Homo sapiens: one gene and its partner. The protein of the gene in region 1 purifies or fractionates together with the protein of each later gene. This does not show direct contact. Each region holds a gene or a part of one and is shown in the gene's direction. Other genes may lie near its edges.

What was found.
Region 2: the proteins of KIAA0232 (region 1) and DCAF7 purify together in Homo sapiens (affinity purification with mass spectrometry; 2 studies listed by BioGRID and IntAct, with this or other methods). This does not show direct contact.

What each region holds. Positions count from the first base shown.
Region 1 is NC_000004.12:6,876,727-6,889,407, forward strand, and holds the end of KIAA0232 (uncharacterized protein KIAA0232), read left to right. Parts: coding exon 1-31; intron 32-4,060; coding exon 4,061-4,240; 3' UTR 4,241-7,438; downstream 7,439-12,681.
Region 2 is NC_000017.11:63,577,753-63,590,433, forward strand, and holds part of DCAF7 (DDB1- and CUL4-associated factor 7), read left to right. Parts: intron 1-717; coding exon 718-876; intron 877-1,584; coding exon 1,585-1,696; intron 1,697-2,072; coding exon 2,073-2,191; intron 2,192-5,749; coding exon 5,750-5,959; intron 5,960-7,458; coding exon 7,459-7,576; intron 7,577-11,247; coding exon 11,248-11,420; 3' UTR 11,421-12,681. UniProt on the Homo sapiens protein: Involved in craniofacial development. Acts upstream of the EDN1 pathway and is required for formation of the upper jaw equivalent, the palatoquadrate. The activity required for EDN1 pathway function differs between the first and second arches.

The sequences.
Region 1 (12,681 bases):
TAATGAAGAGCGCCTGTTAGATTTTAATAGGGTAAGTGGACTGTCCTCCTCCTCGTCATTAACTTACAAACAGCCACCACCTCCAGTTGTCACTGTAGTCAAAAACCTGGGAGTCATGTGAGTGGACCCCACCTCTCCCAGGAACCAGCCAGGCCTGTGGGTGCAGACTTCCTGTTCTCTGGCCTTTGTTCTGAGTCTGCATTCTCCCCCGCTTCCAAACCCCCTTGACTGTTGACTGCCAGTGCTTCCTGAAGAATCCCCAGCTCTCTCCCCAGTCTTGGCTCTACACTACTGCCCGAGGGCATTGCATTACAAATGCAGAGCTGACCCTGTTGCTCCTTGGGTGGGCACACTTTTCATCTTTTTTTTTTTTGTTTACCTAATAAGTGGGAGACCTAGCCTTGTCCTCTTTGAAAGTGCACCCTGAGGCAGCCTTGCCAGTGTGCTTGTTGCCGCTGTCCCGGCTTCTGCAGAACGATCCCGCCCTTTCCGTGTCCTCCTGCACTCTGTGCACGACTCTTCTTGCTGTAGCCAGAGCATGTACTTGCGTTCCGTTTCTGCATGTCTGCCTCTTCCACAAGCCTGTGGGCACCACGAAGGCGGGAGCGGGGCCTCCGCCTGGTTTAGTCTCGTCTTAGACCTTCCCCGGTTAAGAGGCAGGCAGGCAAATGAACCTAAGGAAAATTCTTTTTATTTGGTGTGAATTGTCAGTGTATTAGGGTTCTCCAGAGGGACAGAACTAATGGAATAGGTATATATATACACAAAGGGGAGTTTATTAAGTATTAACTCACACGATCACAAGGTCCCACAATAGGCCATCTGCAAGCTGAGGAGGAAGGAGAGCCAGTCCCAGTCCCAGTCCCAAAACTGAAGAACTTGGAGTCCGATGTTCGAGGGCAGGAAGCATCCAGCATGGGAGAAGATGTAGGCTGGGAGGCTAGGCCAGTCTAGTCTTTTCACATTTTTCTGCCTGCTTTATATTCTAGCCACGCTGGCAGCTGACTAGATGGTGCCCACCCAGATGAAGGGTGGGTCTGCCTTTCCCAGCCCACTGGATCAAATGTTAATCTCCTTTGGCAACACCCCCACAGACACACCCAGGATCAGTACTTTGCATCCTTTAATCCAATCAAGTTGACACTCAGTATTAACCATAACAAGTCCACCCCTTGTCAATTTGAACCCATACACATCTCCTGAAATTATATGTAATCTTCAAATAAAGACAATAAGGTCATAATTATACCTAACATAATACAGCTATGCTTCATACAACCGGAAAAGCACCAATCCCAAACCCAAGTACTATTACATAGAGTTAACAATACTTAAATGCTGATATGAAGTCAATAAATCTTATGTCAGCCGGGCGCTGTGGCTCACGCTTGTAATCCCATCATTTTGGAAGGCCAAGGTGGGCAGATCACCTGAGGTCAGGAGTTCAAGACCAGCCTGGCCAACATGGCGAAACCCCATCTCTACTAAAAATACAAAAATTAGCCGGGCGTGATGGTGCACCCCTGTAATCCCAGCTACTTGGGAGGCTGAAGCTGGAGAATTGCTTGAACCCAGGAGGTAGAGATTGCAGTGAGCTGAGATCGCACCACTGCACTCCAGCCTGGGTGACAGAGCAAAACTCCATCATTCATTCATACATACATACATACATACATACATACATACATAAATATATACATACATAAATCTTGTGTCACATGATAAAGGACAAAAAATAAAATGAGATTTTCTTAGTACAAGTGTATACATGCACAAACGTGTTTTTAACGAAGGAGGAAATACTCCTCAAGACAATTACAGTCCTGGTTTCTGCACCTGGTCACATGGTCGTAGCTGGTATTGATGACTACCTTCTTCTACTACCCATTCTGTATTCCCTTTGCCTTCAGCAAGCACCTCAGCAGGTTGTGGTTTTTTCCCGGTGGAGTGACCTAAACCTTCATTCCTAAAGAGTCTGAGCCATTTGTATCCTGTCTGGACTGGGCTGTTGTAGTTTCCCGTTAACTTGAATCACACGGCATGTGATCAAGTTGACACTCAGTATTAACCATCTGTCAGTGTCCATTCAAGTCCTGTGAGAACTGTCTGCCCAAGCACCTGTAGCATCATCGTCCACGTCCTGCTGCCCACTGACCTGTCCGGCTCCACACATGAAGGCAGATGTTTGAGGCCCCCACCAGCTCTCTCCTCAGTGACTAGTTCACATCATCCCTCCAGCCTCAAACCCCAAACTGAGACATATTCCCCAGTCCTCTCTCTCATCTTCCACACACAGTCTGCCTGCCAGTCCTGACCGTTCCCCGCTGTCAGCCACTTCGCATCTCCCACTTCTCCTCCTCTCCATCATTACCACTTTGTTCAAGCCACTGTCCCTGCTCCTGAACAGCTGCCATGGTCTTTTCATTGTCCTTCCTGCTTTCGTCATCCTTTCCAGCCTTCTCTCCACACAGCAGACAGAATGACCTCACGAGCAGTATCTTGTTCAGTCCTCACAACGACCCTGTGAGGTAGGTACTGTTGTCATGCCTGTTCTGCAAAATAGGAAAGTGAAGCACAAAAACATCAGGCGCCGTGTATCCGAGGCCAGAGAGCCACAGCTTCAGTGTGGACCTGAACTCTGAACCTCAGCAGTCTGCCTCTAGGACCCATACTGCTAACCATGATGTCACTTTGCTGTTGCATTTGAGACAGATCCAAACTCCCCGCCACGCCTCTACAGCCCTGTATGTTTTGCCCCCGTCTGCCTTTGACCTCATCTGTCTCTGCTCTCCCCTTACTCTGTGTGGCTTTTCTGTGCTTCTGCCTCAGGGGTTCTCAACCAGGGGCAATGCTGCCATTTGGAAATGAGGTGGGAGTGCTGCTAGTTACTATGGCAGGGTGAGGGGAGCTTTGTAATGACTGTGACTGAGGAGGGGCCACCACTGCATCTCATGTCCTGGGGTCCAGAGATGCTGACCATCTGGTGTAGGGGAGACAGTCCGACACCACAGAGTGTTGGCACCTCTGCATGGCTGGCTTCTCAGCTGAGCGGGCCTCTTCTCCAAAGAACTCCCTTCCCAACACACCCATCTGCAGTGCCCCCCCTCACCATCTGTACTGTGTCACTGCAAACTCCCTTCCCAACACACAGGTCTGCAGTGTCCCCTCACCATCTGTACTGTGTCACTGCAAACTCCCTTCCCAACACACCCGTCTGCAGTGCCCCCTCACCATCTGTACTGTGTCACTGCAAACTCCCTTCCCAACACACAGGTCTGTAGTGTCGCCTCACCATCTGTACTGTGTCACTGCAAACTCCCTTCCCAACACAGAGGTCTGCAGTGTCCCCTCACCATCTGTACTGTGTCACTGCAAACTCCCTTCCCAACACACAGGTCTGTAGTGTCGCCTCACCATCTGTACTGTGTCACTGCAAACTCCCTTCCCAACACAGAGGTCTGCAGTGTCCCCTCACCATCTGTACTGTGTCACTGCAAACTCCCTTCCCAACACAGAGGTCTGCAGTGTCCCCTCACCATCTGTACTGTGTCACTGCAAACTCCCTTCCCAACACACAGGTCTGTAGTGTCGCCTCACCATCTGTACTGTGTCACTGCAAACTCCCTTCCCAACACACCCGTCTGCAGTGCCCCCCTCACCATCGGTACTGTGTCACTGCAACTGGCACATGTTGGTTTGCTCGTTCATCTCCCCAGCGAGCCTGGCATGCGCCTTCCACTGCTGGAGTCCCTGTGCCCAGTAAAGTTCCTGGTGCATAGCAGGTACTCAAAGACTTTGAAAATGAAATAATTCTTTATCCTACCCTAACATGGCTAACATTTTGTCCAAGTGACTGAACATGTGGAATTAGGATTTTGGATCCTTCATGGATCAGAGAAGAGAGGCGGTTTTGCTCTGAAACAGTAAAACTCTGCATGTTTGTAACTCCACAGGAAAACACTGATGATTTATTATTTCTTCTTTGTATATAGATAGAGTATCTCACCCTTTTGGGGAAAAAAAAGTCTTTTTGATGTGTTGAAAATTGTTTTAATCTTAGGTGTCTTCTGTTTATGAAGCAAGATGTACAGGAGAGAGAGATTCTGGAGCAAAGTCAGATGGCTTCCGCGGAAAGATGTGCTCCAGCGCCAGCTCCACCTCGGAAGAGACAGGCTCAGAAGGCGGAGGCGAGTGGGTGGGCCCTAGTGAAGAGGAGCTCTTTTCTCGAACTCATCTCTAAACCTGCAAAATAGTACAAATTATTGTTTAAAAATGATATGTGATGGAAAATTACTCTTCAGTGAGACCTGTTAATCTAAAACAACAACTTAGGTTTCCTCTTCAATTAACTGATTCAGATTGGTAATAATTATCTTTCTCTTCTTGCTTATTTTAGAGTTGAGGACAGCTATCCTGTTAAAGATTTTTTTTCCCAGCTGTTAAATTCTTGGCTATTTGAAATAGACTAGATTGTGTTGTCAAATCAAGAATGGGTGTGCATGTGCTTGTCTTAGAAGTATCACTGCTTTTTGCATCTTAACTGCAGTTAATTTTCCTTCCGACTGCGGTTATATCACTATGACCTTACTAGCATTGCAGTGTCAACAACCACTTCTGCTCTTCAGAGACTTCAGCTTTGGAGCATTTAGGCTTTGTTCTCCAAGAACTGGGATATCCATTCTTACCCTACAGTGGCTTGATGCCTTTCTGAAGGCGAGAGGGAAGCCTGGGTGACTCAGCGGTGGTCTCCATTCAGCAAAATCTCATGTACATTTCCAGTAGGAACCGCAGAGGTGTGCTTTTCAAGACTCACCAAATACTGTGTTTTCTCTCTTAGGATTTCTTTTCCCCTAAAGTATCACGGAAGATACTATGGTTCGTGACTTTCTTGCTAACTGAAGAAGCCAAGGATTTGGGGTGTGGGGTCGTATGCGAGACACAGTGGGGTAAGGGTGCATACCCCACCCCTTACCTGCTCTCATACTGCAGTTACATTTACACCAAAACCCCATGCAGGGTTCTTTGTGGTGAGTGTTCCATACGTGCTAAGGACCTTAGTTACAGATTGTTACTTTCTGGTGACCTATGTTGAATTGAAACCCCCAAAACTTGAAATTGTGAACATTTGACATGCAGTAAAGGCCACCTCATCACCCAGAGAAATCTTTGGCTGCTGCAGCTAGCCGCTTCTTGGCTGTGATGTAGTATAGCTTCGATCTCATTTTGTGTTTGAGAGAATGTTCTGGGCAAGTTCTGTGTGTGGTGGGTTGGGGCGGGTAGAGTCATGAGTTTTCCACATCCCTGTGTGGTGGTTTTGCTGACTGTCGCTCCGTGGGACTGGCTCCCGTTTCTCCTTGGTGAGCCCGGGGAGCCGGCGCATCTTGTGAGTCGCGTCTGTGCATGGCGATCCGCTCCTCCGGCTCTCATGGCATTGTGCCACAGGCAGAGGCCAGGAGGAGCAGTATGTGCACAGCCGAAACATTTTACATTTTTTACATTGTTTTTCTTTTTTAACCAACTCATTGTTTAAAAAACAAAAACAAAAAAAACCTAATCTGTGAAATCAGCGTAGCATGCCTGGAGCATCAGGAATGGCAGAAAAGTCTGATGCGCTCTAGACAGCTTCACCACTCATTTGGGCAGGCAGTAAACACACATATAATTTATTAGCTGGGAGCTGAACTGGCTGTGAAATCTATGATTTGCTTTGAACATTTGGGTTTTGTTGCCTTTTTCTTAATTGATAACACAGAAAAGAAAGTACCATCAAAGACTGTGGAGTCATTGAGGGTCTGTGTGTCCTCACCGAGAGGGACCTGGTGTGCCCGCCGGGTCGATCTTCCCACGTGTTAGGGTTTATTTTTATACAACACATTTTTTGACACTTTAAGGTGGGTGGGTGTGTGTGTGTGTGTGTGTGTGCGCGCGTGCGCGCGCGCATGTGTAAGGTTTTATGTTGCTGTTATTTATTTACGAACTTCAGATACGTTTTTATGTATTTTTCATTCTTCTGGAGCTTCCTAAAAATTGATAAGCATCTGCACTGAAATATAATTTAACAGCAAAAGTAAAAAAGGATTGAAAGTTGTAAATTCCTCATATCACTACAGTGACGATTATTCTAGAAATCGTTGCTTGTGTAGCAAAGACCAAATAAATAGATTTCAGACACAACCTTGAGCACAGTTGATTTTGGACAGCTGCTGTTTATTAGGAAAGGGCTCCAGGTGGCAAAGGTGCACACTTCCTCAGACACAGGTGAGAAGATGCAGCACCTTCCACAGGTGAATGGGACGGATTCGAAGTGAGCAAAGGGATTCACAAATTATGTATTTATTTGTTTTCATAGTTAAGTAGCTGAAGCTCAGAGGCTTTCAGCAACAGAGATGAAAGTGTGGCTTTTTAGTTTTGTGAATGGATGATCACAAAGAAAAAGCATTTTTAAAAAGTTGGCAAACGCTGAAACGCACTGTGGTATGAAGCGCATTGCATTTCCATAGCACTGAAGTACCAGTTTCCATTCCTGGGCTGAGATTGTTTTTCCCGTGGTTGTATTGTTCTGATTTCACGTACACCAGAGTAACTGATTTTTTTTTGTTTGTTTTCTTGTGGAGTTAACACCAAATAAAAATTGTAAAAAACAGTTTGTTGTTTTTATTTCTCATAGCAAAGCTTCTTTTGTAAAGAACTCCAGCTTCCTTTTACTCATGAGCATCCGTGGAAGAGCAAGTGCCCAGGTTACATTTGTTCTAGATGGAGGTCATTTAGCTCTCATTGCAGACACTGCTGAAAACATTGTGCAGCTTTGCTAGGGAAGAAAGTGGTGTGGCCTGCTGAGAAATCAGCGGCTCCTCCCCATCTCACCCCCAGCACACGCAGGGACTACTACCTGAGTCTGCAAAACACATAGCATTTTTGTCCGTGGATGGTACACAAAGCTCAATCTTTTTGTTTTCTTCTGGGGAAAAAATTAAATCTTTATATGTTAATATGATTGATATTCATTGTGCAAAAAAAATCAGTGTGTTTTTAAAGAAGTATAAGGGAAAAGGAAAACTCATATGTCCTTCTGTCACTCTGAGACATACACTGGTAACATCTGTGCAAGCCCCTTTCCAGGATTCTGAATGTACAGTATATATGAATGCATACACAGAGAAATTTACATTCAAGAGTGTACTATACTTGTTCTTCTATAACATCAGAAATAGGTTTTTACTCAGATGTCTTCATGTCGGTAATTATAGAACTACATAATTATTTTTATAGCTGTATTATGTAGATTTAACAGGTTCCTCATTGATAAAACAATGTTTTTTTGGTTGTTTATTCAGTATCTGAATAACGTTTCTATGGACATCTGTAAACATGTATGAGGGGACTTTTAAAAGTTCATGGAAAATGGAATTAAAAGAAAAATAAAAAAATATAAACTTTATTTCTCAACATAAGTTCCATCAAGTTCAAGATACTACTATAAGACATAATACCAACCATTCAGTCTATCCCTAAAGAACTGAGGCTCCTGGAAATTTCACCTTGTCAGTGTAGTCTCTGCATTGTGAACTGAAGAGAAATGGGTGCCCTTTACAGCTTTTTAAGATTAGGAAACAAAAAGTCAGAAGAAGCCCAATCAGGACTGCAAAGTGGATGCCTGATGATTTCCCATCAAAACTCTTGGAAAATGGCTCTCGTTTGCTGAGAGGAATGAGCAGGAGGAGCACTGTCATGGTGGAAAAGGGCTCTGGTGAAACTTTCCTAGGCATTGTTCTGCCACAGCTTTGGCTAACTTTCTCAAAACACTCGTCATAAGCAGATGTTAACATTCTTTGGGCATCTGGAAAGTCAGCACATACACAGTGCTTTGAGCATCCCAGAAAATGGTTGCCTGGCCTCTGCTTTTGACCAGTCTGCATTTGCTATGAGGAGACCCCTCCCACCTCTCGGTAGCCAGTGCTGTGATCACAATCACATTGTCTTCAGGATTGTGCTGGTAAAGCCATGTTCCATCTCCTGTTACAGTTCTCAGAGGAAATGCTTTAGGATGTTGATTCCTCTTGTTGAAAGTTTCCCCTGAAAGCTCTGCTGCTGTCTCCAGCTGATCTGAGTGCAGTGGTTTGGTAGCCATTGAGTGGCAAGTTTGCTCAACGTTAATTTTTCAGTCAGATCGTGTAAGCTGAACCATCTGAGGTGTCTGTGGTGTTGGGTGTTGTTTCTGCTGTTAATCATTGGTCCTCTTTGATTCAGGCATGAATAAGATTAATTTTTTCCTCACAAATTGATGAGGAGGTCTTCACCATTGTCTCATCCCTTCTTAAAACAAGTTACCCATTGGCAAACCTCTGATTTTGGCTGGGGGCGGGGCATTGTCCCCATAAGCTTTTTTGTAAAAAAATCATTGATTTTGGGCCAGGTGTGGTGGCTCACGCTTGTATTCCTAGCACTTTGGGAGGCTGAGGTGGGTGGATCACGAGGTCAGGAGATCGAGACCATCCTGGCCAACATGGTGAAACCCTGTCTTTATTAAAAATACAAAAAAATTAGCCAGGCGTGGTGGCATGTGCCTGTAGTCCCAGCTACTCAGGAGGCTGAGGCAAGAGAATTGCTTGAACCTGAGAGGCGGAAGCTGCAGTGAGCCGAGATCACGCCACTGCACTCCAGCCTGGGCAACAGAGCGAGACTCTGTCTCAGGAAAAAAAAAAAAAAAAATCACTGATCTCACCATTCTTCCACCCAAGCATCACCATAAATTTGATGTCCTTGCTTCCATTTTTAGCAGAATTCATGTTGCTCTGATAGGTGCTCTTTTCAAACAGTCATACCCTTCTTAGTGCCTCAAAGTAGATCTTAAGACATGTTATAACAAGTTAGTACAAGTTTATTTTGGTGCAAAAAATTTTTGAAATCTGTGCATAGCTCCTTTTTGGAGACAGTCTCACTGTGTCACCTAGGCTGGAGTGCAGTGGCATGATCACTGTCATCTCAAACTCCTGGGCCTAGTGATCCTCCTGCCTCAGCCTCCCTAATAGCTGGGACTATAAGCACACCTCACCATGCCCAGCTCATTTTTTAATTTTTTGTAGGAACAGGGTTGCCCAGGCTGGTCTCAATTACTTGGCCTCAATCCATCCTCCTCACCTCAGCCTCCCAAAGTGCTGGGATTACAGGCCTGAGCCATTGCACCTGGCAATAGCACAGGCCCTAAAGGATGTAGTTGGCCCACCCCCCAACACCATTTTTAAAGTCCTTACCCCACCGATTTGCAGGAGTGCAGTGATGTCATCTCGGTTCACTGCAGCCTCCACCTCCCGGAGCTCAGGCAGTCCTCCCCTCTCGGGCCAGGAATTCTGACACCACAGCTAAGTATTTTTAGAACAGCCCGGGGTGGAGTGTAAAGGCTTCTGCCTTTTTCACTGAAAGTGCTCTGGCCACTGCCCTGTGTGCCTGCTGCTGCTGCCACTACAGATGCCACTCTGGCCATGAGTGGCTGTGGCAGTGCCCAGGAGGCCTGCATCTACCAGCAGTCCAGGAACAGAAAGGAAGCCCCTGCCCCTGGTTCCTCTTGAAAGCAGCCAGTCGGATGGCGTCACAAGCTGGCCACTGTTGTGAACGCAGAGATTAGGAAATGAGCTGTCGTTTCAGAGCCCGCTGCTAGCCTTGTGCCACTGGTGTGGTTAATTAATAGCATGTTCAGGGACGGTTGCCTCAATTATCAAGCTGGTAATGATGCTGCCACCTAACGTTTGGTTGGCGTTGCTATTGTCTGTGCTAGTCATAGTCAACAGCTGACACTGAGGGCTTACTGGCTGCCACGCATTCTAAGCGCTCTTGAGTGTTAACTAGCAACCCTATGAGGGAGCTACAGCTGCTCTGTTTTACAGATGAGTAAACTGAGGCACAATGGGGCATTAGGCACTTGCAGTCTCACACTTGGTGGATGCTGGAGCCCGAATTCACCTTGGGCACTGACTGCAGAGTCCATTTAACACTGAAACCTCCATCTCACAAAATCCCACTCATTAAGTTACGTATTGTCTCTGGGCACGGTGGCTCATGCCTGTTAACCCAGCACTTTGGGAGGCCAAGGTGGGCGGATCACCTGAGGTCAGGAGTTCCGAGACCAACCTGGCCAACATGGTGAAACCCCGTCTCTACTAAAACTACAAAAATTAGCCAGGCATAATGACAGGCGCCTGTAATCCCAGCTACTCCGGAGGCTGAGGCAGGAGAATCACTTGAACCCGGGAGGCAGAGGTTGTGGTGATCTGAGATCGCGCCACTGCACTCCAGCCTGGGTGACAGCAAGACTCCGTCTCAAAAAAAAAAGTTATGTATTGTCTGCGTACTTGCAGGGAGTCCTGCTGTGTCAGCCCCGGCTGTGTGTCCTTGGGCGAGTTACTCAGTCTCACACGTTGGTATCTTTAGATGTAAATGGAGATCATAACTGGACCTCTCTCCTAAGGGTTGGTTATAAACATAAAATAGTCCATCTGCATAAATACTAGAGTGCAAACTAAAAAGTACCTGAGACAGACCTCAATTAATTTAGAAGTGTATTTTGCCAAGACTCAGGACACACCTGAGAGAGAGAGGTCTGTGCCTTTCTCCAAAGATGATTTTGAGAGCTTCTGTATTTAAAGGGGAAAAGTGGGCTGGAGGGGGAAGGGGGAGGGTGTGGTCACACGACTGAATCCACAGGTTGCGAGAGAAAAGGAGCAGGTAGGGGAGTAGTCAATTAGGTATTTGACTTGTACGCACTAAATCCTCACTTTACGTAAGATACAGTGAACACAGAGTAGCTACCTGTGGAGATAGCTGGCCTTTTTGTTTTGTTTTGTTTTTTGGACAGGATCTCACGCTTACCCAGGATGGAGTGCAGTGGCGTGATCTCGATCTTGGCTCACTGCAGCCTCAGCCTCCCGAGTAGCTGGAACCACAGGTGTGCGCCACCACACCCAGCTAATTTTTGTATTTTTTGTAGACAGAGGTTTCACCATGCTGCCCAGGCTGGCCGTGAATTCTTGGGCTCAAGCAATGCTTCCACCTCGGCCTTTCAAAGTGCTGGGATTACAGTCGTGAAGCCACCGTGCCTGGCCTGTCTGGCCCTTTCGCTGTAGCTATCTGCTTAAGAACATAAGGAAACGCAGCTTCTTGCATGAGTCTATTCTCATCTTAAGTATTTCCTTTTAGCACAGTGAATTACGGTCCCACGTTTTTATTTTCCTTTCACACTGGACTCAAAAAAAGCAAAAACGGAAATGCAAAAGAGAAGTTGCAGCACTGAGTCCAGTAACTAAGGAGACAGTTGCCTCTTTGCAGGCGGTCTCTCACTCCCTGCCCTCCCCCCTGTGCTAGCAGAGCCCTTTAAGGGCCCTTGTTGGATCTGCAGCTCCAGGCCTGCCTAGTCAGCGGGGGTCAGCAGGGGTCAGCCCCACAGAGGCCATTCATCCTTGAGTGCTGACCACAGTGCTGTCACCATGATCTCGCCCTGAAGGGAGGTCACGCTATCCCTTCGACACAGGAGACCAACTCCTTTGGCTGTCCTTGGCTCCCAGTGGTGGCTGAACCAGAGGGCAGGGGCCAGGGCAGCAGCAGAGCCAAGTGTGCCCACTGGGGCCGAGGGCTCTGGCCACCACGTCCGTTGGGGAGGATGGTGGGGAGGGCCCTGGCCTTGCAGCGAGGGGGCAGGCACACGGTCTCCCACTTCCTATCACAGTCCAGGGGTGGGGAGGACCCCACCCTCTGGCCCTGTCACAGGTGGGGACAGTGACCCTCCCCTTCCAGGTGAGGCTACATTTTGAGGCTGAGGAGCACACGAAATGCTGGTCCTCAGCAGCGCTAAGGCCAGGAGCCCCTGATGTGTGAGTTTGTGTGGGGATGTTGCCCCTGAGGAGGGGTGATAGGAAGAGCCCCCTCCTCGTGAGCTGTGACCCTGAGCCAGTGGCTCTCTCAACTGTGAGATGGGGACCCTTCTCCCTCCCAGGGCTAGGGGAGGAGAACTGGCAGGCAAAGTGTCCGCTCATTTCCCTGAATAGAATACAGGCTCCCTCCTGAGGGTTTCTTGCCGTCCCCACGTGGTCCCTCCCAGCCCTCACAGTGGGCACCAGCAGTGCTGTCCCTCCTGCCCGGGGCCCTAGAGGGAGGAGGAAGACGTGAGTCCTGGGACTGGGCAGGGAGACAGGTCAGTCCCCGCTCCACGAGTTCCTGGAGCCCTCGGGTCTACCCTGCTCTGACCGAGCTGCTATGGGTAGAGCAGATCTACCTACGGCCCATCATCTCTGCGTCTTTCCCAGCAGTCTCAGGGTGTCTGTCACCGAGGCTGAGAACCCAAAGTTCTGGCCCAGGAGCACCCGGCAGAGGTGTGAGCCGGGGTCTGCCGATGGCTCATCTGATTCCCAAGTGCAGTGCTGCTTTCCCACTACCGTGGCCTCCACAAACCAGCGCTGTGCCCCCGCTACCGCCGCCACTCCCAGGGGGCCAAGTCCCACACCTTCAGACCCTCAAGACGGGAGCCGGAAGCCACCGCGGAACTAAAGTCTGGGAACCCCCCTTGGGGCGCTCAGGATTCACCCGCGCATGTGGCTGGGCACAGGCCTGTCCTCCAGGAGACTGCAGGCTGGGGACCCAAGGGTGACACCACAGGCTGCCCGCGCTTTGTGCGCAAAGCCAGGAGCGCTCTTC
Region 2 (12,681 bases), on another chromosome or scaffold:
GCCCCTGAGCACCAAATGTCCTCAGCACTTCAGTCATTGTGGCAGCCAAGAACCACCCCTGGTCATTTTCAAATACCTTAGGGGTTTCAGGGGAAGGTGTGCCTGGCCTGGCAGATAGTGCACTTATGTAGTTGGAGTCAAGAATGCAGACTTGAGTCAGAAAACCTGTAATCTCTGTCTCCTACTGGCTTTGCAGTGTTGAGTGTAACCACCCCTTTGAGTCTGGGTGTCCTTGTCTGCCAGAGGATGGTTGGACTAGATACCCTCTCATGGCAATCGTTTTTGATTCTGCAGTTTAGTGTAGTACAGTGTCAAGACTTCTGTCACTGGCCAGGCATAGTGACTCATGTCTGTAATCCCAGCACTTTTGGGAGGCTGAGGTGGGAGGATCAGTTGAGCCCAGGAGTTCAAGGCCAGCCTGGGCAACATGTGAGGCCTTGTCTCTACAAAAAATGAACAAAATTAGCTGTGTCTGGTGGTGCATGCCTCTAACCCCAGCTACTTGAGAGGCTGAGGTGGAAGGATCACTTGAGACCAGGAGGTGGAGGCTGCACTGAGCTGTGGTTGCACCACTGCACTCCAGCCTGGGCAACAGAGCAAGATCCTGTCTTTAAAACAAAAAACAAACAAAAAAAACCTCTGTCACTGACCAGGGATCTAATGTATTTGCTGTACTGCTCACAAATGCTTATGTGGCTCAACTTTGGTATGTTACAGGTTCAGCTTGTTGGTTTAGATGAGGAGAGTTCAGAGTTTATTTGCAGAAACACCTTTGACCACCCATACCCCACCACAAAGCTCATGTGGATCCCTGACACAAAAGGCGTCTATCCAGACCTACTGGCAACAAGCGGTGACTATCTCCGTGTGTGGAGGGTAAGCGGATGCTTTATTAGCAGCCAGACAAGTGGGCTTTCTCAGCCTCAGCTGTTAGCAGTGAAAAGTCACAGAACAGACAGGGGTCAGAGGCAGCGAGTGTCATTGCAGCACAGGAGAAGCAAGCGAAGCTTAAATGGACTGGCCTCGTTTGGCTCAGCAGATTTTCTAGTATATCAAGTCAAGATTCCATGAAGTCTGGCTGCTGGCTGCAGTCAGCTCAGTCAACCCGAGGTGATGATGACGGCCTTCAGTGGAGGTGGGAATACTTGGGAACTCATATTCTGTTTGCAGCCAAGGTATTTTTGAGTAAACTAAATGAAATACCAGGCCATTGATTCTGATAAAGTGTGTGAGTGGATCTTGGAGGCTTCCCTCCACCCTCAGCTGAGCTCATCAGCAGCAGCGTCCTCTGTAGCATGGGCGTGGCCTTAGTACACCTGTGCAGAGGTTCCAGGCTGGGCAAAGTGAGAAGACCTCTCCTCTAGGAAGGTGCAGGGATGAAAATGTAGAAAACAAAGCTGGGCAGAGGAGAAAGTATGGGAAAAAGTAGCATTCAGGGAGTCCTGGGTTTATTACTGTTTTTGATAAAAATGTTTTCCCCTCATGTCTTATGTTTGCTAAGATATTTTCTAAACAGGGATTTTTTAAAAGACTTTTTATGAGGATAAGACTGGCTGATTTTTTTTAAAATTCTTGTTCCTTCAGGTTGGTGAAACAGAGACCAGGCTGGAGTGTTTGCTAAACAATAATAAGAACTCTGATTTCTGTGCTCCCCTGACCTCCTTTGACTGGAATGAGGTGGATCCTTATCTTTTAGGTAAGGGAGTTAGGGAGTATGTATTTCAGCTGGAAGAAGCCAAAATAAATTTTCTCAGATGTCACACTGGGCCATACATCCTAGAACAAGGCTCAGTGGGAAGTAGGCTAGGCGTGGAATGTGGTTATTTATTAATTCCTTTGTGTGGGTGAGCTTTCCGTGTGTATAGATCTTGTCTCTCCAGTTAGAATCTAAGGTCCTACGGTGAGGACTGAAGACTTGACTGCCTCGGTGGCTCTGCCGGTAGCCCCCACCTTGTTTTCTGTAGTCTTTATGGTATGCTGCTCCCTGGGCTGAGCAGATGAGTAAACACAAGAGGGAAGCTTGCATGAGAACCTTGGTCCCGTCAGCCCTGACTTGCACTGGTTGTTTGCAGGTACCTCAAGCATTGATACGACATGCACCATCTGGGGGCTGGAGACAGGGCAGGTGTTAGGGCGAGTGAATCTCGTGTCTGGCCACGTGAAGACCCAGCTGATCGCCCATGACAAAGAGGTAAGATGCTTTTCCATTTCGTCTTTCCTCAAATGCTTCCTGTGCCTTCCGCACAGGAAGAGGTCAGCTTGTTCTCTCATTGTTCTGCAATTTATGTAGAAAATCATAACATAACATCTTCTTGTCTAAATTGACAATAGTAATGTATCAAAAACGGGAAAACAACACTATTGTAAACTAATGCTTTTTTTTGGCTAATGTAAATGACCTATTCTACGGTCTGTCATTGTTCTTTTCATGCCAGAGGTTGCTTTTTTTAAATAACAAAGTCTCTTATAGAGGAGCTGGGAACTGATGTGATTAAAAAATAACTTTAGAGTAATACTTATCTTGAAACAGATTAGATTTGGGGAGGAAAGAAGGGAGACAGGAAGAGAAAAAATTTTCTGAGAGACAAACGTAATTATTCATTTTTCTCTATAAATGTTTTACCAAATCCTAGTATGTTCACTTAATCTTTATACTTTCATTACTGTTGGCAGTGGAGGCAATGGAATATATTTTATTTTGATGGCGATGCTTCTGTGTTTATTGGGAAAACTGAGAAGAGCTATTTGTGATTGCTTTTTTTTTTTTTTTTTTTTTTTTTTTTGAGACAAAGTTTTCCTCTTGTTGCCCAGGCTGGAGTGCAATGGCGCAATCTGGGCTCACTGCATCCTCTGCCTTCTGGGTTCAAGCAATTCTCCTGCCTCAGCTTCCGGAGTAGCTGAGATTACAGGTGCCCGCAACCACCCCTGGCTAATTTTTGTATTTTTTAGCAGAGACAGGGTTTCACCATGTTGGCCAGGATTGTCTCGAACTCTCCTGACCTCAGGTGATCCACCCACCTTGGCCTCCCAAAGTGCTGGGATTACAGGCGTGAGCCACTGCGCCCGGCCAATTGCATTTTAATCAAAGCATTCTTCTCAGTGATTTTGGAAAATCCCCATAAGTCTTTTCCTCCTACAGCCATTGCATGCTCCTGGTACTCTCATCTCCTGTGGGTACTATTTCCTGTTCTTTTCTACCTTACCCTGCACAGCTAGGGGTATTAATATCTATACAGATAAAAGGAATGCCTTGATCTTAGGTCAGAAACTTGAGGTTGTCAACAGCATAGGAAGATGTGACCCAGGTTATCATTCTTAGTAAGGGGTTGTCTTTGGCTTTCTGTACTCCTGAAGGTAAGCCCTGTTACAAGACTTCTAGAGTTGACTGCTGCTAAACCAGGGGTCAAATGAAGAGTTTGTCCCACAGAGAGGACCAGTAAGGAACTTCTGGAAACCCTCTTGGCATCAAGTTGAACAAGCGGCTACATTTTAGTTATATGACAACTTAGCCTGCTGTTGTCTGTTAGGTCCAACCCAGAAAATGGGAACTACTCTTAAGTATTTGAACTGCAGGGATTTAATCCAGGGGCTGCTTATACAGAAGATGGTAAAGCTGAGAAGCCACATAGGTAGCAGTGAGGTCATCCATAGAATGGGAGCAGCAGGAAGCTGCAGCTGCCTATAGGCCAGAGGGACCATGGGAGGAGGCAGGGTTCCTGGAGCCCAGGGGCTGGATTTACCTGGCAGAGACGCTTCTAGGAACAGAGAGAGGGGAGGAGAAATACCTTAGCTTTTCCCTGCCTCCCATCATCCATTTTCCCACCAAAGCCTCCCATGGCTGAACCAGCCAGAAGCAGCCAGCAGATCTGAGACCCTGCCAAATGCACGCTGTAGGAATCAGTTCTCTTGTGACACAGAGAAGAAGAGCAGGGAGAAAGGCCAGGAATGGATCTTGACAGCAGACAGGCCTGGACCGGCAGCCTTGTCTTGAAGGAATAAACCTGAGAAAGGATAGTGGCTCTAGAGAAACAGTAATAGCACCTTTCTAGCACCTTTGATTTTTCTCAGTCCACCTTTCTCTAGGAAAAGACTTGTTTGGAAGGCTCTCATTGATACCTGGCAGATCAGTGTAGAAGAGGGTTTAGTGTACTTGGGAGTTGTCACCTTCCCTTGGTTTCCCAGTGAACCATGCTAGCGGAGCACTGAAGGAGCAGTCACTTAGAGCCGAGAGAGCATTACACACTCAGCCACGCTGCCCATGGCACCTGTGGGATCTCTGTCCCTGAGGGTTACCAGGAGCTGTCATTGGGGGGTATACATATTGATAAACATGGCTGTGCCTTAAAGCAGCTGTACAGTACTAGAGAAAGCCTCGATCTGTCAGGCACGTCAGGCCTGAGTGCCTCCTTGTTGATGACTGGCCCGGTCCCTTTTGAACCACTTCTACTTCCTGCCATAGAAAGACAAGCATAATTTCTTCATAGCCAGAAAAAAAAGGAATTCGTGAGGTTAAATAGCAATAGATGCTCATTTGGCAGTGCCCCTCTGTAGGCAGAACTTCAACACTGGAGCTGTAATATTTAGTGAGAAATTCTAGTCGTGTCTCCCCAGAAGTCAGCTGTTATTATCCCCAGAAGATGAGTTTTGTTTGGCATTAGTTTTTCTGTTTCTCTCTCTATTTGTCTGTCTCTGGCTCTCTCTTCGTCCCTCTTCGTCCTCTTTTTTTTTTTTTCTTTAAGACAGAGTTTCGCTCTGTCCCAGGCTGGAGTGCAATGGCCTGATCTCAGCTCACTGTAATCTCCGCCTCCCGGGTTCAAGCGATTCTCCTGCCTTAGCCTCCCATGTAGCTGGGATTACCGGCACCAGACACCACACTCAGCTAATTTTTTTGTATTTTTAGTAGAGATGGGGTTTCACTGGGTTGGCCCGGATGGTCTTGATCTCTTGACCTTGTGATCCGCCCGCCTCAGCCTCCCAAAGTGCTGGGATTACAGGTGTAATCCGCACCCGGCCTTCGTCCTTTCTCTGAAGCTCTCCGTTGCTCTCTGCCTCTGTTTCCTCATAGACGTTAGTGATATGCAATGTTTGCAGCAAATAAAAGCAGAAAACAGTGATTCAGAACCTAAATTGATTCACTTATGATCTCAAACCAACTAGGAGAAGAAAAAACATGTCCTAGGACAAGCGGGTGCTACTAACCTATTTGTGAATACAGGAACATCTAGGCCTCCCGTGACTCAAAATTTCTGTTACCTCTTTCTTGCAAATGAGTCTCAGGTCCAGGTTTCACAGAATCAGCTTGGCTGCTATTAAGTGGCCACAGGAGGGCTGCTTTCACCTCTGTGATTGATGATCTAGGCCTTAATGAGCTCGTAGACCTGCCTCTGATTGTGCACAAGGCCCAGGAAATAAGTGTCTCATTCTTGTTGTGTGGCAGAAGACAGCCACTGTTCTGTTGGTCAGCAGGGCATGTGCCTTTGTTTTATCACGGGTTGGAGGAAGAAGACTTGGAAAGCAGGAATGTGGGAAGAAGCCAGCCAATTTCTATAGCAGAATGATCTTCCATCTTTGGGAAGCCACTGATATTAGAGCTCTCGGGTTTCAGTACTCACAGACACTGTTTGGGCTTCATTTATCTGCTTTTGTGTCATGAGCGAGGTTTAGATGAACTGGACGTGGCAGATTTCCCTCCTATAGGAAGAAGAGGTAATGGATCTGAATCTGACTGGAGCTTCTTGTTCACCAACAGGTCTATGATATTGCATTTAGCCGGGCCGGGGGTGGCAGGGACATGTTTGCCTCTGTGGGTGCTGATGGCTCGGTGCGGATGTTTGACCTCCGCCATCTAGAACACAGCACCATCATTTACGAAGACCCACAGCATCACCCACTGCTTCGCCTCTGCTGGAACAAGCAGGACCCTAACTACCTGGCCACCATGGCCATGGATGGAATGGAGGTGAGCACTCCTCTCAGGCTACCATGGGCCCTGCCTAACTCCAGCACTGCTTAGTATATCTAGAAGGCTGGTTCTCAACTGGAGCAGTTTGGCTCCCGGAGTATCTTTGGGAATGTCTGGAGGCATTTTTGATTGTCACAGCTCTAGAGACGCAGTTGGTACTATGGCATCTAGGGGGTAGAGACCAGGGAGGCTGCTAAATATCCTACAGTGCCCAGGACAGTCCCCCAGCAAAGTATATCCTACCTAAAATGACAGCAGTCCCGGGACTGAGAAAGCCTAATCTGGAATAAGAATTACTTGTTAAGAACTTTTAATTTTTGAAGAGTTGGAGTTAGAGCCAGGAAAAGCAATATCTAAAGAGTAAACCAAATCGTATGTGCCTATGGTGCTGAGTGAAAAAGCAGATTTTCCCTTCTGTAGTCTGGACAGATTCATCTAGCTTTAGCAAACAGATGTAGAAATGGCAGCCCTCTGGCCGGGCGCTCTGGGTCACGCCTGTAATCCCAACACTTTGGGAGGCTGAGGCAGGTGGATCACGAGGTCAAGAGATGGAGACCATCCTGGCCAACATGGCGAAACCTCGTCTCTACTAAAAATACAAAAATTAGCTGGGTGTGGTGGCATACGCCTGTAGTTCCAGCTATTCGGGAGGCTGAGGCAAGAGAATTGTTTGAACCTGGTAGGCAGAGGTTGCAGTGAGCCAAGATCGTGCCATTGCACTCAAGCCTGGGAGATAGAGCAAGACTCCATCTGAAAAAAAAAAAAGGCCAGGCACGGTGGCTCACACCTGTAATCCCAGCACTTTGGGAGGCCAAGGTGGGCGGATCACAGGTCAGGAGATCAAGACCATCCTAGCTAACACGGTGAAACCCCGTCTCTGCTAAAAAAATACAAAAAATTAGCCGGGCGTGGTGTCAGGCACCTGTAGTCCCAGCTACTCGGGAGGCTGAGGCAGGAGAATAGCTTGAACCTGGGAAGCGGAGCTTGCAGTGAGCGGAGATCATGCCACTGCACTCCAGCCTGGTGACAGGGCATGCTCTGTCTCAAAAAAAAAGAAAAACAAATGGCAGCTCTCTCTAGTCTGTTACTTGATTAAAGAGGTGAATTGTGGGTGGGGAGAATGCATTGGTTGTCCTTGGTTTGGTGGCGCTAGCACCTCAGATTCTGCTTTGGCTGGGCTCTCATTCCATTCATCTGAGATGCATAGAATTCTTACCACATGCACCTGCTGGGACCCAGGATTACCCAGACTCCTGTTGTCTGTTTCTGCATCTCCCCTATCAGTCTAAAGGCCCAGTGTTGCTCAAGATAGAGACTATCAACTACCCGTGTCCTTTGTCTTCTTTTCCCTCAATCCTATGGAAATCCTGTCTCTAGTTCTTTAAATCCACAAATGAAAAATTATGCCTAAAAAGATTTTTGCATGTGGATAGTATTTTTTGTTTTTTTCTATGAAACTCTGATGATCCCAGGCCTTTTACTTGTTATTTCCGCAGGTGGTGATTCTAGATGTCCGGGTTCCCTGCACACCTGTCGCCAGGTTAAACAACCATCGAGCATGTGTCAATGGCATTGCTTGGGCCCCACATTCATCCTGCCACATCTGCACTGCAGGTAATCATGGTGGGGAGAAAGAAATCTGGGAAGGATGGAGGAAATCTGTTCTCTTGGCTCCTTAGAATTGTAGTTGTTACTGTTTTCTAAGCACAGTCTTGAGAGATTTATACAAAATGACTAGTTGGAGCCTCTCCACACTTGTGAAATTCAATCAGTACAAATTTTTAGACGATCTTGTACCCTCATGGACATCAGAACATCTTCCATATATGATTTACATCATGTGTCAGTTATAGGGCTGTGCCTTGTACTGTGCCCCTGAAATCTGGATGGCACAGAGGACTCAATTCCAGGAATATGGGGAAAGGGAGGCATCCCTCATGGATATAACAGAATCTTTGGGACTGTGAAGATCAACATCTCCATGGGACCTTTCAGGTTTCACTATAACAAACCCACAGTGTGCTCTGGATGCATCGGAGGGCCCCACAGAACTTTGCCTGGTTGTGGTTTGTGACTTGTGGTTTTCATTTCACTGTTTCCCAGACCAAAGCTAGCACCCCTTACGGGCTGGGTGCAGTGGTTCACGCCTGTAATCCCAGCACTTTGGGAGGCTGAGGCGGGTGGATCACCTGAGGTCAGGAGTTCGTGACCAGCCTGACAAACATGGTGAAACCCTGTCTCTACTAAAAATACAAAAAAAATTAGCCAGGCATGGTGGCACGCACCTGTAGTCCAAGCTACTTAGGAGGCTGAGGCAGGAGAAGCACTTCAACCCAGGAGGTGGAGGTTGCATTGACCAGAGATTATGCCACTGCCCTCCAGCCAGGGCAACAGAGCAAGACTCTGTCTCCAAAAAAAAAAAAAAAAAAAAAAAAGTACCCCTTAAAAATATGTTGGGCCAGGCACAGTGTTTCAGGCCTGTAATTGCAGCACTTTGGGAGGCTAAAGTGGGAGGATTGCTTGAGGCCAAGAGTTCAAGACCAGCCTGGGCAGTATAGTGAGACCTCATCTCTACAGAAAGTTAAAAAAAGACTATCTGGGTGTGGTGGTGAATTCCTGTAGTCCCAGCTACTTAGAGGCTGAGGTGAGAGGATCCCTTGAGCCCAGGAGTTTGAGGTTACAGTGAGCTGTGATTGTGCCACTGTACTCCAGCCTGGGCAACCAAGCAAGACCCTGCCTCTAAAATAAATTTTAAAAAAAGAAAAGAAAGGCTGGGTGCAGTGGCTCACATCTGTAATACCAGCACTTTGGGAGGCCGAGGCAGGTGGATCACGAGGTCAGGAGATCAAGACCATCCTGGCCAACATGGTGAAACCCTGTCTCTACTAAATACAAAAATTAGCTGGGCGTGGTGGCACATGCCTGTAGTCCCAGCTACTCGGGAGGCTGAGGCAGGAGAATCGCTTGAACCTGGGAGGTGGAGGTTGCAGTGAGCTGAGATCGTGCCACTACCCTCCAGCCTGGTGACAGAGTGAGACCCCGTCTCAAAAAAAAAAAAAGAAAAATATGCTGGTTGTCAATGCACTTTTATTGTAGAAATAATGCCAATCTGTTATTTAAATTGAAAACAGTACAGAAGCATATTTAAGAGCAAGGCGAAAGTCATCTTTTCTCCTTCCTATATCATTTCTGCCTCCATCCCCCTCTGCATAGATGACCTCTATCAACAGGTAATGTGTCTCCTTCCAGACCCTTTTGGTATACTTTCAGGGATGTACATCTATGCCCCCAAATACAACTATATACTTCTTCCTTTTGCACTGATAGGATTCTGTCCTAGTCCTGTGATGTTTTGCTCCTTAACTTTTTTAGTGTGTTTTTTTTCTTCTCCTCACTAATCAGGAGCCTTATAATGGACAAGGTTTGTTATGGAGCCCAAGAAGCAATGTACTCTGGTGTTTTTCTGCCATTTGAGCATTATTTGGAAGGCATGAAGCTTTTCCTGATTTTGGCCCTCTGCTCATGCCTGTATGTCTCCTTGAAGAGCAGCTGGGGGCCTGCTGCTGCCTTCTGTACCTCAGATTGTGGTCTGTCTTCTTCATTATTGCCCTCTTTTTTTTTTTTTCCCAGGGGTGTGGATAGGGAGGGATAGAAGAAGCAGAAAAGAAAGGTGTCATCCATTATTCATGGAAAGCAGGACTGGCCCCGTAGAAGCCCCATTTTCTGCTCCTGGCTGCTGCCTTTGTCTGGCTCGCTGTTGTTTTGTGTGTTGCACCTGCCTTGAGCCCCTTCAACCGAAGGAGCTGTTGCTCAAGTGTGCTCGGTTGAGCATTGAGGAAAAGGGCCTTAGTGCTCTAGAGGTGCAATTCCCTGACCTCTTGGCATTGATTGTCCCTGGGAGAGGGATCTTGCACCTGGCCCAGACTATGCGGCCTTGGCAGGAGACTAGTATTGCCCACAATTAGTCTATTAGGGTTTAGTTTATTCAGATTTTCTTTGTATCTGAGACCAGCTTTCATCAGAATGCATGGCAGAGTCAGGGTACACTGCAGCTCTGAAGGCCATTGCCTTATTTTTTTCTTTTTTAAAAATTAACTTACTATTTTGATTATAAAAGTAATATAGGCCAGGTGCGGTGGTTCATGCCTGTAATCCCAGCATTTTGGGAGGCCGAGGCAGGAGAATCGCTTGAACCTGGGAGGCTTTGGTTGCAGTGAGCCGAGATTGCACCATTGCACTCAAGCCTGGGCAACAGAATGAGACTCCATTTAAAAAAAAAAAAAAAAAAAAGTAATATGAGCACATTACGAATCACTTAGGAACTAGAGAAAAGTAAACATAAATCCTAACCTTGCCATCTTAGTATTGCCATCATTCTCATTTTAATATATTTCCTTCTACTTATTTTTCATGTGCTTTTATATATTTAAAGTGATTACCATCTTTCTGGTGTTTCCCATAGCTATTTTCTTGGATTTTTTTTTTTTTTTTGAGATGAAGTCTCACTCTGTCACCCATGCTGGAGTGCGGTGGTATGATCTCGGCTCACTGCAACCTCTGCCTCCCGAGTTAAAGCGATTCTCCTGCCTCAGCCACCGAAGTAGCTGGGATTACAGGTGTGTGCCACCACACCTGGCTAATTTGTATTTTTTTTTTTTTTTTAGTAGAGATGGGGTTTCACCATGTTGTCCAGGCTGGTCTTGAACTCCTGACCTCAGGTGATCCGCCTGCCTCAGCCTTCCAAAGTGTTGGGATTACAGGTGTGAGCCACCATGCCTGGCCAGGAAAGAATTTTTTAACAGCACATATCAGCACTACTTTATCAGTCTTCTATATAACACCTCACTGAAGCATAAATGTCCATCAAACAGGGAAGAAACGCTCTCATTATATTGAATGATCAGAGAATGATCTTTGTAACCACTCAAGTATTTTAAGTGGCTGCAAATGACATGTTTGGTATCCCCTTGTCCACTCCTGATACCTGACCCAGATGAGAAGGACTCATTAGTGCAGTGGATAGAGCCTGGGGACATCTGGGAGATGGAGTCAGGGCCTAGATTTGAGTTCTGGCTCTGCCACTCACTTGGCTGAATAGCTGTGTGATTTGGAACAAGTGCCTTAACATTTCTGAATCTCGATTTCCTCATCGATAAAATGGGGGCTTAAAATAGAACCGCCATCACGGGGGTGCTTTGTAAACTGTGACTTGCTCCTGAAATGCAGGGATCATCATCCGCATTGCCTCACTTGTGACCTTGCTTGCTGGCTTTCTTTGTCCCTAGCGGATGACCACCAGGCTCTCATCTGGGACATCCAGCAAATGCCCCGAGCCATTGAGGACCCTATCCTGGCCTACACAGCTGAAGGAGAGATCAACAATGTGCAGTGGGCATCAACTCAGCCCGACTGGATCGCCATCTGCTACAACAACTGCCTGGAGATACTCAGAGTGTAGTGTTGGTGGCGCTGTGCCCACGAGGCAGGGGCTTTTGTATTTCCTGCCTCTGCCCCACCCCCAAAGTAAGAAGAAACATGTTTCCAGTGGCCAGTATGTCTTTCATTGCTTTGCACCCACTGTTACCAGAAGCTGCTCTAGGAGTTCCTGGCCAGTCACCCCATCGCCCTCTGTGGCAGACTCAGTGCTGTGTGGCGCCTCCTCAGCCCAGGGCTGAGTTTTAAGATTTTCTCTCCTTTCCTCTTCTCCTTTGGTTCCTCAATTAAAAAATGTGTGTATATTTGTTTGTCAGGCGTTGTGTTGAGGAGCAGTTCACGCACTGGCTGTGTCTATTCCTCTGCCCAGGTGTCTCTGTTTGCTGCCCAAGGCAGCAGTTCATGTCTCGTCCATGTCCATGTTCGTGTTAGCACTTACGTGGGAACAAATACCAATTTGTCTTTTCTCCTAGTATCAGTGTGTTTAACAAATTTTAACTTTGTATATTTGTTATCTATCAGGCTAATTTTTTTATGAAAAGAATTTTACTCTCCTGCTTCATTTCTTTGTCTTATAGTCCTCCCTCTTTGCACCTTCTTCTCTTCCCTCAGTGCCTGGAGCTGGTACTGGGCCCCTGGCCCCATGAGCAGTTTGCCTTCTTGAGTCACTGCCTGTGTAGTACATACCTGACCGGGAGTCCAAACCACCTTGGTGCTCTGAAGTCCACTGACTCATCACACCTTTCTTAGCCTGGCTCCTCTCAAGGGCATTCTGGGCTTGTAAACAGACATAGGAAGCCTCTGTTTACCCTGAAGCACCACTGTCCAGCCCATTGGTTCCCACTGGCAGCATGGTAGAGCTGAGAGAAACAGGCTCTCAGGGTACCTGACTTGAGGGGAATCGTTTCATGAAGCTGAACTTCAAGCATATTTCCAGTACATTCTTTCAGAGTCTGTTTTTCCATCCAAATATAAGCCCCAGGCCATTCCACTTAGTGTCTTTTCAATGATAGGCAAGAATGATATCTGAGTTGAACTTCGGTGCTTCTGTTGTTTGAGTTTACTGTGCCTGGTGGTATATTGGGCATTCTTTGGATTGAGTGTTCTGAGGTGAGAGAGTCTTCCCGAGGCATCCTGTCTGTGCTTCCAACCCTGAACAAGACCTTACATGAGAGATGGACTGATGGACTGCGGCAATCCTGGGCTGTCAAGTGGATAGATAGTTAAAAAGCATTATACTGTGGGTAATGAAAAGGGAGGAAAAAAAAAGAAGGAAAAGGAATTAT